Homo sapiens: one gene and its partners. The protein of the gene in region 3 purifies or fractionates together with the protein of the main gene of each other region. This does not show direct contact. Each region holds a gene or a part of one and is shown on either strand. Other genes may lie near its edges. The genes, in order: MADD, TAB1 and MTMR8.

Region 1 (3,774 bases), on a different chromosome or scaffold from region 3:
AGACATGGAGAGTGCATTGTAGTCTCGGGACTGTAGCACCACCTGTCATGAGCCATCCAGTAAGAATCACTCCAAAACATAAAATATGGTTTACAAGAAAACAGCTTCCAACATTACAACTTGGTTTCCACTTCATCGAGCCTACAGCTCCAGCTTTGTCTCTCCCACTGCCCCCTGCCCCACCATGCCTGCCACCTCCCAATCCAGGCACAATGGTGATCCTCAGTCACCTGAGATATGCAAATCACTCCCTTACCTTCCTAGTTCTTGTACTGCCCATCCCAGGACCACTCACTGAAACAGAACTACTGATATTTCCAAAGAATTAGGTCAGTACAATTAAGGATAAGCCCTAATGAATGGTAAACCCTCTAAATACATCCCACATGATACCAGTATCTTAATTCAACCCACATCTACGGAACACCTGCTGTTTACCAGGCATCATGTTACCTCCTGAAGACAAAAAGGTGAAAAATATGTAGTCCCTGTCCTCTAAGAGCTCGTGGTCTGGCCACTGGCATATTTAAGAGTTTCTCCCCTAGAAAGGTCTAGGAAGCTTGCCTCTCACCTTGTGCTCTAACAGAATGCAGGTTAGCACCTGGAGACAGGCGTCCACACCTAGAAGTTCCAAGGGAAGGTGCAGTGGGAAATCCACTAGGGTGAATCGAGATGGGTCTGGAAGAGCAAAGGTCAGAGCTGGCTGGAGCTCTTGGGGTAGGACCTCGATGTCTACTCGCTTCTGCCCAGAGACGGGTACTGGGGAGCGCAGCAATCGATAGATCCAGGCCTCAATCTCTCGAAGGTCATGCAGAAGGGCACTTGACTTCTCCTCTACCAGCAGCGATCCAGTAAAGATCCGCCACATGGTGTCCCTGAGAAGCAGACAGCAGGAATCAGACACATTAGCATCAGAAGCTGATACCCTACTGCAACTCAGTATCACCACAGAGGCTCTAATGATGACAATGGGAAACGGAGCATCATTAAGAAAGCCCAGTCTCTGAGCTCAGATAGGACCGGAAAGTATATACAATGGCAAAAGCAAATGTAAAGATATATACTGGGTAAGACTTACTGTCCTAACCACAGTTAAAACACCAAATTCCAGCATTACTCCAAACACAATTTTGGAAAGAGGTCTAACTCTGCAGCAGTCTTTTGCTTAGTAAAGATTAACTCTTGGCTGGGGATGATGCTCACGCCTATAATCCCAGCACTTTGGGAGGCCAACGTGGGTGGACCACCTGAGGTGAGGAGTTTGAGACCAGCCTGGCCAACATGGCGAAACCTTGTCTCTACAAAAATACCAAAATTAGCTGGTCATGGTGGCGTGCACCTGTAATCCCAGCTACTCGGGAGGCTGAGGCAGAAGGATCACTTGAACCCAGGAGGCAGGGGTTGCAGTGAGCCGAGATCGCACCACTGTACTCCAGCCTGGGCAACAGAGCGAGACTGTCTCCAAAAGAAAAAAGATTAACTCTAAATACTCTAAATATGCTTAATAGGTCTGAAGGACCTTGAGCTGTAGAGGAAATTTCCTATGCCCCTCAAAGACCAATTACATGGAATCTCTAAATGCTTCCCCCATTAGGCATCAGCAGCAAACTGTACCTTTGTACGCCTCGAGGGATGCCCAGTTTCTTGCCCAGAAGGCGCTCACTACAGCAGTCCACCAGGCGCTTGAGAGTATACAAACACTCTCGGAAGGTGGAGAAGAAAGGGTAGTGGCTGAGCACGCACAGGGACGTGAGAGTACTGTTGCGGGAGCGGCTCCCCGCCTTGGCCCGGCGTTTGCCCCGAGGAGACTGGTTCACATCAGGGGTAGAGTCAGCACTGAGAGGCTGCAGGGATGAGCCACTCTCTGAGCTCTCAGTGCCACCCTCTTCTGAGGCACAGGTGGCATGGGTTCCTTCCTTCCCACGGGACCCTGCCCCACCTTCCCCCTTCTCCTTAGAGATTCGCTTTTGGAAGGAGCGGTAGAAGTTAACACAGATGCCATATCGCGTGACTCCAGTGTCCTTGTCAGTGAGGGTGAAGACAAAAGAGGTATCATCCCGAAGGCTCATGCGCCGCTGCCGCACGCTCAGGCAGCCCTCGGGCTGGCAGAAGAACACTACATCTGGGGGCAGGGGAAACTCAGTGTGATCCTCCAAGGGGTATCGCCGTAGCAATTCAGGAGTCTGGGCCACGCTATCACTGCTCGGGTGCCTGAAGAACATAAAGACAAATTCAGCAGCCTGAAGGGATGGAATGGGCTATCAAATTTTAACCACAGTCAACAAATAAAGCTCAAGATGCTATTTTGGATAAAGTAACCTGACTGTAACACCTTGGAAAATATGGGTGCTGCCTGCCGCATGGAGCTGGTAACCTAAGTGAAGTCTACACTGTCATGAAGGCATCTATTCTGAAACGAAGGGGAGATTTTGACAATAAAATTATCACTGGCACCTTAAGATGATTAACATCTTTTAAAGTGAATTAACTAATAAATTACCAAAAAAGTATACATAGAGGAGTAGCTTATAATGTACTTTTTCTTTTTACAAAATAAGAAAACTGAGGTATAAAGAGTATATTTGCTCGACATCAAGAAGATGTTAGTTAAGAGCAGGGTTTTGCTTTCAATCCACCTGATTTTGTTTTTTCCCTACTGGCTTCGATGCTCCCATCAGGGTAAAATAACAGGAGAAGATGAGCTATGCAAAGCAACATGGAAATCGGAGAAGGGAACAACTGCAGATTTTATGGCTATCCCAGATATTAAGACAAAAGTCAATCTCTTCTTGGTTACCTGGCCCCTACGATCACTAGATAGTCAAGTAACCGAGGACAGAACTTCTTCTTTTGCACCATGGTTCCAATTCATCAGTTTATCTCAGAGAAGCATCAGGGCACCAAGCAAGGAGTCAGCATTCCCAGGAGGAATTCTGAAAATCGAAGTCTAATAGGAAAAAAAGTACTGATAAGATCCACTGCTGTGCCTAAGGGACTCATCCCTCTCAACTTCTTCCCGGCCAGAGGCAGAGGTCAGAAGGTCTTCCACTTTCATACTAATGATAGGAGAACTTGACGCTTGCCTAGCCTCGTGTCTAGGCTCATGAGCTCACAGAATCGAATGTTAAAAAATAGATAGGCCAGGCATGGTGGCTCACGCCTGTAATCCCAGAACTCTGGGAGGCCGAGGCGGATCACCTGAGGTCAGGAGTTTGAGACCAGCTGGCCAACATGGCAAAACCCCATCTCTACTAAAAATACAAAAAAATTAGCCGGGTGTGGTGGCACACATCTGTAATCCCAGCTACTCGGGAGTCTGAGGCATGAGAATCGCTTGAACCCAGGAGGTGGAGGCTGTGGTGAGCTGAGATCGCACCACTGCACTCGAGCCTGGGTGACAGAGTGAGACTCCGTCTCAAGAAAAAAAAAAAAATGTAGATAAATAATGGTTCACCTACCTATCCCTACCAATGACTTAATTTCCAGCTTAACGCCTGGGGCTCTGTTTCTGAAAAACAGACCTAGGCCATCTAATCTGGACTCAGTCATTGTAACAAAAATTGAAGTCACTCTCAGGATCCCTCCAGGGTGGATCAGGATCAAACCAGACTCCTCAACTAGCTAGCACTAACCTGCACTTCTAGGTCTAGATGGAAACTTAATTATTCTGTTTCAACAATCTACATTCAGCTTGATGTAAAACTACCACATAGACTGTCTAGTTAACCATGCTCAGACAATAACAGCTGGCTATTCTACCTCATGTGATCTCAA
Region 2 (3,696 bases), on a different chromosome or scaffold from region 3:
GGCCTCAAGCAATCCGCCTGCCTGGGCCTCCCAAAGTGCTAGGATTACAGGTGTGAGCCACTGTGCCCGGCCACAAAGAGGTTCTAAGGAGAGCTTGATGTGTTCAAAAGGACCCAGACCTTTCAGCCGGATAAAACAGTGTTAGTCTCATACTGGCTTTGGGCAAATCACTTTATGTCCCTGAGCCTTAGTTTCTCCAAACCAAGAGGACTCTGGGGAGTATTGTTGGTGTTAAAGGAACTGACACATTCCACTACTAGCCTGGCTTGGTTGCCCGCTAACCAGAAACTTCTACCTTCAGTGCTGCCGTGAGTGAATGCTGTTCATTCCCTTAAATGTCCCTGAGCACTCACTATGTGCTAGGCACCCTGCAGGTGCAGGAGACACCGCCTTTGTGGAGCTGATGGTCTAGTAAAGGGGACAGACAGTGAGCACCGAACAGATACAGATCATCTGTGATTTTGTAATATCCAAACTACAGCATCAGGTGGTGCTATGAGGAACAGTCTAGATTCACACACAGAATGTTGGGGGTGCCATTTTGGACAGGGTGGTAAGGGAAGACTTCTCCACATTTGATGAGATGAAAACGGGGAAATGGGGGCAGCATTCCTGCCCAAGGGAGCAGGAGATGCAAAGGCTGCTGTTTCAGGAGCCTCAGGGGTGCTGGTGCAGCTGGGTGGAGTGCCTTGGGGGAGCTTGGGAGTAGCTGAGGTCTGAGGGAGCCGGGGGCCATGCTGGGCTTCACAGGTCCTGATGTGGCCTCTGGATTCCATTCTTCATGTGATGTGAAGCTTTCATGGGGAGCAGATTGAGTAGGGACCTGATGTGATGTGACTTTTGATTGGAGAAAAATCCCTCTTTTTTTTTTTTTTTTGAGACGGAGTCTCGCTCTGTTGCCCAGGCTGGAGTGCAGTGGCGCAATCTCAGCTCACTGCAAGCTCCGCCTCCCAGGTTCACGCCATTCTCCTGCCTCAGCCTCCCAAGTAGCTGGGACTACAGGCACCCACCACCACACCCAGCTAACTTTTTGTATTTTTTTTTTTAGTAGAGACGGGGTTTCACCGTGTTAGCCAGGATGGTCTCGATCTCCTGACCTCGTGATCTGCCAGCCTCGGCCTCCCAAAGTGCTGGGATTACAGGCGTGAGCCACCGTGCCCGGCCGAAAAATCCCTCTTTTGAGTTTGAGTGGTGAGAGTGGAAGCCTGGGACCTCCTAAGAGACTCCTAGAGTCATCCAGGTGCGAGAAGGTGTCTTGGCCATGGGGATGGCAGAAGAATGGTGGGAAGTATCAGATTCCAGTTGTGTTTTGGAGGAAGAGCTCATGTGATTTGCTGATGGATTGAATGTGAGGTGTGTGACAGAGGAAGAAGAGTCAAAAAGGACTCTTAAGGTTTTGGTTTAAACAACAGTGGTGCCATTTACGGGGTGAGGGAGCCCTGGAAGAGGGGCACCCTGGGGCAGGGGGAATCAAGAGTTTGATTTTGCCTGTACTGTTACTTAATTATAAAAAAGAAAATCAGGCTAGGCATGGTGGCTCATGCCTGGAATCCCAGCCCTTTGGGAGGCTGAGGCAGGAGGATCACTTGAGGCCAGGAGTTCCAGATCAGCTCGGGCAACATAGTGAGATTCAGTCTTTAAAAAAATTAGTGAGGCATGGTGGTATGTGCCTGTAGTACTTAGGAGACTTAATGGGGTGATTGCCTGAGCCCAGAAGTTTGAGGTTGTAGTGAGGCTATGATCCCCTCACTGCACTCCAGGCTGGGTGACACAGCAAGACCTGTTTAAAAAAAAAAAAAGAAAGTAAGCTTAAAATCAATTTTTTAAACTTCGACATGTCCTGAGCAATTATATCTGAGATCATAGGTGCTGCTATCTGTGTAATTTATCTAAAGGATGTTAAAATAAATACATAGCCACTAAAATAAAAAGGTCCATGGGGGTACCACCTATACCCATTGCATACACCCAGCTGCTGCCCTAGCACATTGGAAGTGCCAACAATGATTATTAGCCCCTTTAAGAATGAATGAGGAGCTCTTTAGGATGACGACATGGAGAACCTTCAATGAAAACTCCGGTGGGAGAAGTGGGGGCCAGGAGTGGAGCTGGTCTCAGAGAAGTGGGTCATCCGGAAGGTTGGAGGTGGTGGGGGCATTGGGGCCTTGGAAGCTTTTTGGAGAGAAAGGTCTGCTGCTCCCCTGCTCCGAGCCCTCTTCCTGGGGTTGTGAGTCTCCCTTTCTGAGCTTCCTTTTTGCTTCTAAGGAATGTGGGTGCTTTTACCACAAAAACACTTGGCCTTTTCATAGCATAATTTGGTATTCAAGCTGTGGCCTGAGCTTGGAACCATTCTTTGTCCATTTCTGCTGCCCAGGACTTTGAGATGAGTCTGTGTGGGTACTTTGTGAACTATTATGTGACATGGACACATATATACATGAGGAGTGAATGCTTACATCATGCACAGGGTGTTTGTAAAGGCCTTGTTGGGTTAAATACTGTTGGATCACTGTAGAAGCTTTTCATACCGAAACATTAATTTTGGAAACTCCTTCACAAAATCAAATCAAAATTAGGTCTTTTGAAACAGGCTTCTTAACGTATTCTTGTGAAATTTCTCATGAGCAGTTCATTTCTCAGACATGGAAGAGTTAAGTCCTGCGTTCGCTGTTGTGTGTGTTGCAGTGGCTCCGCGATGAGGCTGTGCTGAGTGAGAGACGCCCCCTTCTCAGCTTCTCGCAGACTCTTGCTCCCTGCGCTCCAGCGCCGCTCACGGCTGGTGCTGGCAGGCCTGGCATTTGGGGGCGTGGGAGAAAGTATGCATCAGTGTGTGCAGGGGTGGAGGGGTGGGTGGTTTGTGTGAATAGAAAGTACATGACCTTTCTGAAAATTGTTCAGAAATGTGGAGGAAGGAAGCGAGAGACTTGGCAGTCCTGTAGGCTTTAATGGAATCAGCAATGGACGCTCGGTATGGCTAATCCTCGATGGAGATGGAAAGGGACGGGAGAACACGATCCAAGCCTACTCAGCTGCAGCAGCGTGAGTCCGCTGGGGAACACGGAGAAGACCAGATACTCTCACTCCCACTTGGTAGAACCTCCTGAGGTTCTCCGGCCACTGTAGTGAACCAGTGTCTGGCGAGCGCCCGAATTACGTGAGAAACTGCCCATGTGTCATTGGATCTAAGACACCAATGTTTTAAGGACACGTCAGTGTTTTGTCTATTGCTCAGAAAGAGAACTCACAGCTAATTAACTTGTAACATACCAACTCCAGAGACGTTAACATGTGGAAAATGTAGGTCTTCAAATCAGTGAAATAAGGTAATCTAATTAACAATACCAGGCTATAGCACAATGGTTGCCACAGGGCCACTTTGGGAGGCCAAGGCGTGTGGATCACAAGGTCAGGAGTTCAAGACCAGCCTGGCCAAGATGGTGAAACCACGTCTCTACTAAAAATACAAAAAATTAGCCGGGCATGGTGGCACGCACCTGTAATCCCAGCTACTCCAGAGGCTGAGGCAGAGAATTGCTTAAACCTGGAGGGGCAGAGCTTGCAGTGAGCCAAGATCGCGCCACTGCACTCCAGCCTGGGCGACAGAGTGAGACTGTCACCAAAAAAAAAAAAAAAAAAAAAGGAATCATTTGAGTGAAAGATAGTTTCTTGAAGATGGTCAGTGGATGATTGAGGTTT
Region 3 (3,774 bases):
ACGTATTAGCTGCTATTATAATTTTCATATGGGCCCGTTAATGGTTTCTTCTCCCTTCCAATTTCCATAGAGCCAGCCCAGTTTATAGCTTCAATCCCTAACAGGGGAATTTTAATATTTTAACACTCAAGGACAGGAGCAGTTCTGCCTCCCCATCTTCCCCAGTTGTCAAAAGAGAGAAAAAAGGAGTATTCGAGTGAGCTGATTTTGAACTAGACAAGTAACGTGGCCCAAGCTTAGGTGGGTTGGGAGAAGAGGGAGTCTGGACAACAGAAGTTCCTTTCCTTTAATGGTACCACCTTCTTATACCATGTCAGAGGACCCGTACAAATGACATGATCCGGAAACAAAGGGACACAGAAAAAGGCAAGGCTGGCTGGCTTTTACACGGGATGTGGTTATCCTCCACAGAGAAAGGCCCTGAAGAGGAGGGAGTCAGAAAAAAAGGTTAAAGGTTGGAGTTTGTGCTTTGCCCATCAGGCAGCATCAAAGTTTTATGCTAAAAAGTGGGCAAAACATTACTAGTTACAAAAACTCTTTCACACACATCCTCTTATTTAATCCCACAACCATCTTGTGAAGTGAGCCGGGCAAATTTCATTATCCTCATTTGGTAGGTGTATCAGTCTGTTTTCACGCTGCTGATGACATACCCAAGACTGGGCAATTTACCAAAGAGGTTTATTGGACTTAACAGTTCCACATGGCTGGGGAGACCTCACAATTATGGAGGAAGGCAAGGAGGAGCAAGTCACATCTTACATGCATGGCAGCAGGCAAAGAGAGAGCCTGTGCAAAGAAACTCCCGTTTTTAAAACCATCAGATCTCATGAGACCCATTCACTATCACAAGAACAGCACAGGAAAGCCCTGCCCCCATGATTCAACCGTCTCCCACCGGGTCCCTCCCACAACACGTGAGAATTACGGAAGCTACAAGAGGAGATTTGGGTGGGGACACAGAGAAAAACCCTATCAGTAGGTGAGGAAAGCTAAGGCTCAGAGAGGTTAAATAATTTGTCCAAAGTCATTAGCTAAGTAGTTGGTGGGGGTGCAGTGGGCAGCACTTTAATTCAAGTCTTCTGGCTTCAAAATCCATGCTCTTTCCATTAAAAACACGCTGGATTTTTTACCAGGACTTCAATTAGCCTGGACCACGTGTGTTATGATCAACAGGAAAAAATAACCACAGACTAGTTGTGAATTTTTCACTGTTCCCCAGCCCCAGACAGGAGAAAGGAGGGAAGTGGATTTGAAACAGAAAGGGGCTGGCGTTGGGAAGGGAGGGAGTAGGATCTGGAAAGATGAGAGGAAAAAGTAGCAGAAGTAACTCTAACTCGGGACTGGCTAAAAACAGGTGACAACTGGCTAGATAAACCTCTTGGGTTTCTCCTACCGGCTGAGCAGAGCCAGATCCACTCTGCCCCACTCCTCTTCCTTTTCCATTGCCCAGCTTTGGCTGAAGAGATGCTGTGGCCCCCACAAACCCTCACAGGCATGCCGTGGAGCTGGAGCGAGAGTGGGGTTCTGGGCAATCCCTGGGGAAGGTTAGTGGCTGGAGGAGCCAAGAGGATGGTGAAGAAACGCTCGATAAAGGAAGTAACTCCGCAGGAGGCAGAGCAATGTGGGGTATTCGCGAATGGCGGTTACAAGTGCAGCTAGTATAAAAAGCTGAGATAAGGGTGAGTGTGAGGTCAAGGCTAGGGAGGAGCTGGAGTCAGAGGGCCAGAACAGGCGTGCACCAGGAGCGGGGGCGGCGTCGCGTAAGGGGACAGTGGTGCAGACCACCTCTTTCCCGGCCGCTGACGCCCGCAAGCAGATCCTAAGAAGAGGTGTTTGGTTGAAAGGGGGTGTGGACCCAGAAAGAGAACCCGGGACCCCCCACAGGAAAGACGCGTCAAAGAAGGCTGAGAAGGCTGAGGAGGTGTGTCTGGGCTCCCAGGTGAGCACCAAGAGGAAGCTCGCGGCTGTCAGCCTCGCTTAACTCTTCTCCTTACCTTGGGTACCGTAATATGATCCATGACTGCAGTTCCCGCCACCGGAAGATCTCAGTGCTACTCCAGATGCCGCCGCCACCGGTCTAGCCGCCTCCTGCCTCAACCCGGGTTTCTACCCCCGCCCTCCCGGTCCTGGCTCAAACTCTCGTCACCTGATCCTCGGCGAAAGCTCCTATCGCGACACTTTGACCGTAGCCGTTCCCGCCATCTTGCTTCCTGGCAAGTGCCCTTTTCTTCGGGAAATTGATTATTCTGGTTCAGGTTCAACGTTTGGCCGAGTCTTTAAGTCCCAGATTCGAGTACTGCCACCCTTCTCACCCTTCTTGATGCTATAAGGGCTCTGAACACAGATATCACTCCTTTACTCTAATATTACAATGATAGCATCCTGCAGCAGTAACACAGGCTGCCCCATGCTGGCAATTGGGTTTCTGAAGAGCTTCCTAGCTGTGAGACCTTGGGCAAGTCACCAGAGAATATTTTTTGAAATATGGAAAGGTATATCCTCCTCTCTATCTCTCCTTTATGTGTCTGCTGCCATCAACCTAGTTAAAATCTGGAATACTACAGTATCCTCATCACTTTTGCCATCGTAGATATGGGAAGAGGACCAAGAAAGGGCCCACTGGACCAGCTATCAGATGAGGGGTAAATAGGTGCAGACCCTCAGTGGTGTGCTCCAAGTCAGATTTGTGGTGGAAAAAAGAACAATCTGAGAGTTGGGAAATCTGGATTCTACTCCTCTCAGGTCTGCCACTAACTTGCTATGTGACCTTGGGGAAATCATGCCACCTCTCTGGGTCTTAAGTTGACCAAGGTTACAATGAGGGTATTGGCCACTATCTCAGGGTAATTTCTAGCTCTACTATTGCAGTGTTATGGTTTGCAATCTCACTGCCCCTACAAAATAATTTTGTTCTTCTTTGAGTTCTTATAACATTTGCTAGCAAAATTACTCGTTTATCATATTCTGCCTTCTTCCCTAGCCTGAAGGCCCTTCCCTCGATCCATGACCCTATTCTCCCTTGTACCATCGTTCCATCATGTTCAGCCCTTTCACTGCCAAATATCTCAAAAGAATAGTCTACTTATCATCACCTTCACTTCTCCATAACAAACTCACTCCTCCCTACCACTCCACTCAATTGGCTCTTTCACATCATCCTAAATTCCAGCTGCTGATTCCAACAGCTCTTCTCAGTGCTCGTTTTCTATTTGTTTTACAGCATTTAAAACTATTGATTCATATTCCTTTTTGACATTCTTTCTTCCCTTGACCTTTATTATAAACAAACTCACTGCCTGCATCCCCAACTGTTCCTTCTCTGACTCCTTCCCAGCAACTTTCTCTTTTTTTTAAGCCATTTTCCTGGCTTCTATCCTCATTCCTCTTCTATTTTCTTTCTTTTGGTTATCTTGATCTCTTCCACAAGTTAAACCCTTACTCCTGGATATGGCTTGGATCTGTGTCCCCACCAAATCTCATGTTTAATTGTAATCCCTTACGTTGGAAGTGGGGCCTGGTAGGAGGTGATTGGATCATGGGGGTGGTTTCTTCTGAATGGTTTAACACTAGCCTCCTTGGTATTGTCGTTGCCATAGTGAGTGAGTTCTCACGAGATCTGATGGCTTAGAAGTGTGTGGCACCTTTCCCTGCCCATTTTCCTCCTGCTCTGGCCATGTGAAGTGCCTCACTCCCCATTTGCCTTCCACCATGACTGGAAGTTTCCTGAGGCCTCCCCAGAACCAGAAGCCACTATGCTTCCTGTACAGCCTG

Evidence for each region.
Region 1: the proteins of MTMR8 (region 3) and MADD purify together in Homo sapiens (affinity purification with mass spectrometry; 2 studies listed by BioGRID and IntAct, with this or other methods). This does not show direct contact.
Region 2: the proteins of MTMR8 (region 3) and TAB1 purify together in Homo sapiens (affinity purification with mass spectrometry, with the first as the bait; 2 studies listed by BioGRID). This does not show direct contact.

Annotation. Positions count from the first base shown.
Region 1 is NC_000011.10:47,273,000-47,276,773, reverse strand, and holds part of MADD (MAP kinase-activating death domain protein), read right to left. Parts: intron 2,948-3,774; 5' UTR 2,860-2,947; coding exon 2,798-2,859; intron 2,212-2,797; coding exon 1,615-2,211; intron 876-1,614; coding exon 572-875; intron 43-571; coding exon 1-42. UniProt on the Homo sapiens protein: Guanyl-nucleotide exchange factor that regulates small GTPases of the Rab family. Converts GDP-bound inactive form of RAB27A and RAB27B to the GTP-bound active forms.
Region 2 is NC_000022.11:39,402,780-39,406,475, forward strand, and holds part of TAB1 (TGF-beta-activated kinase 1 and MAP3K7-binding protein 1), read left to right. Parts: intron 1-3,696. UniProt on the Homo sapiens protein: Key adapter protein that plays an essential role in JNK and NF-kappa-B activation and proinflammatory cytokines production in response to stimulation with TLRs and cytokines.
Region 3 is NC_000023.11:64,393,343-64,397,116, forward strand, and holds the start of MTMR8 (phosphatidylinositol-3,5-bisphosphate 3-phosphatase MTMR8), read right to left. Parts: upstream 2,111-3,774; 5' UTR 2,022-2,110; coding exon 1,998-2,021; intron 1-1,997. UniProt on the Homo sapiens protein: Lipid phosphatase that specifically dephosphorylates the D-3 position of phosphatidylinositol 3-phosphate and phosphatidylinositol 3,5-bisphosphate, generating phosphatidylinositol and phosphatidylinositol 5-phosphate.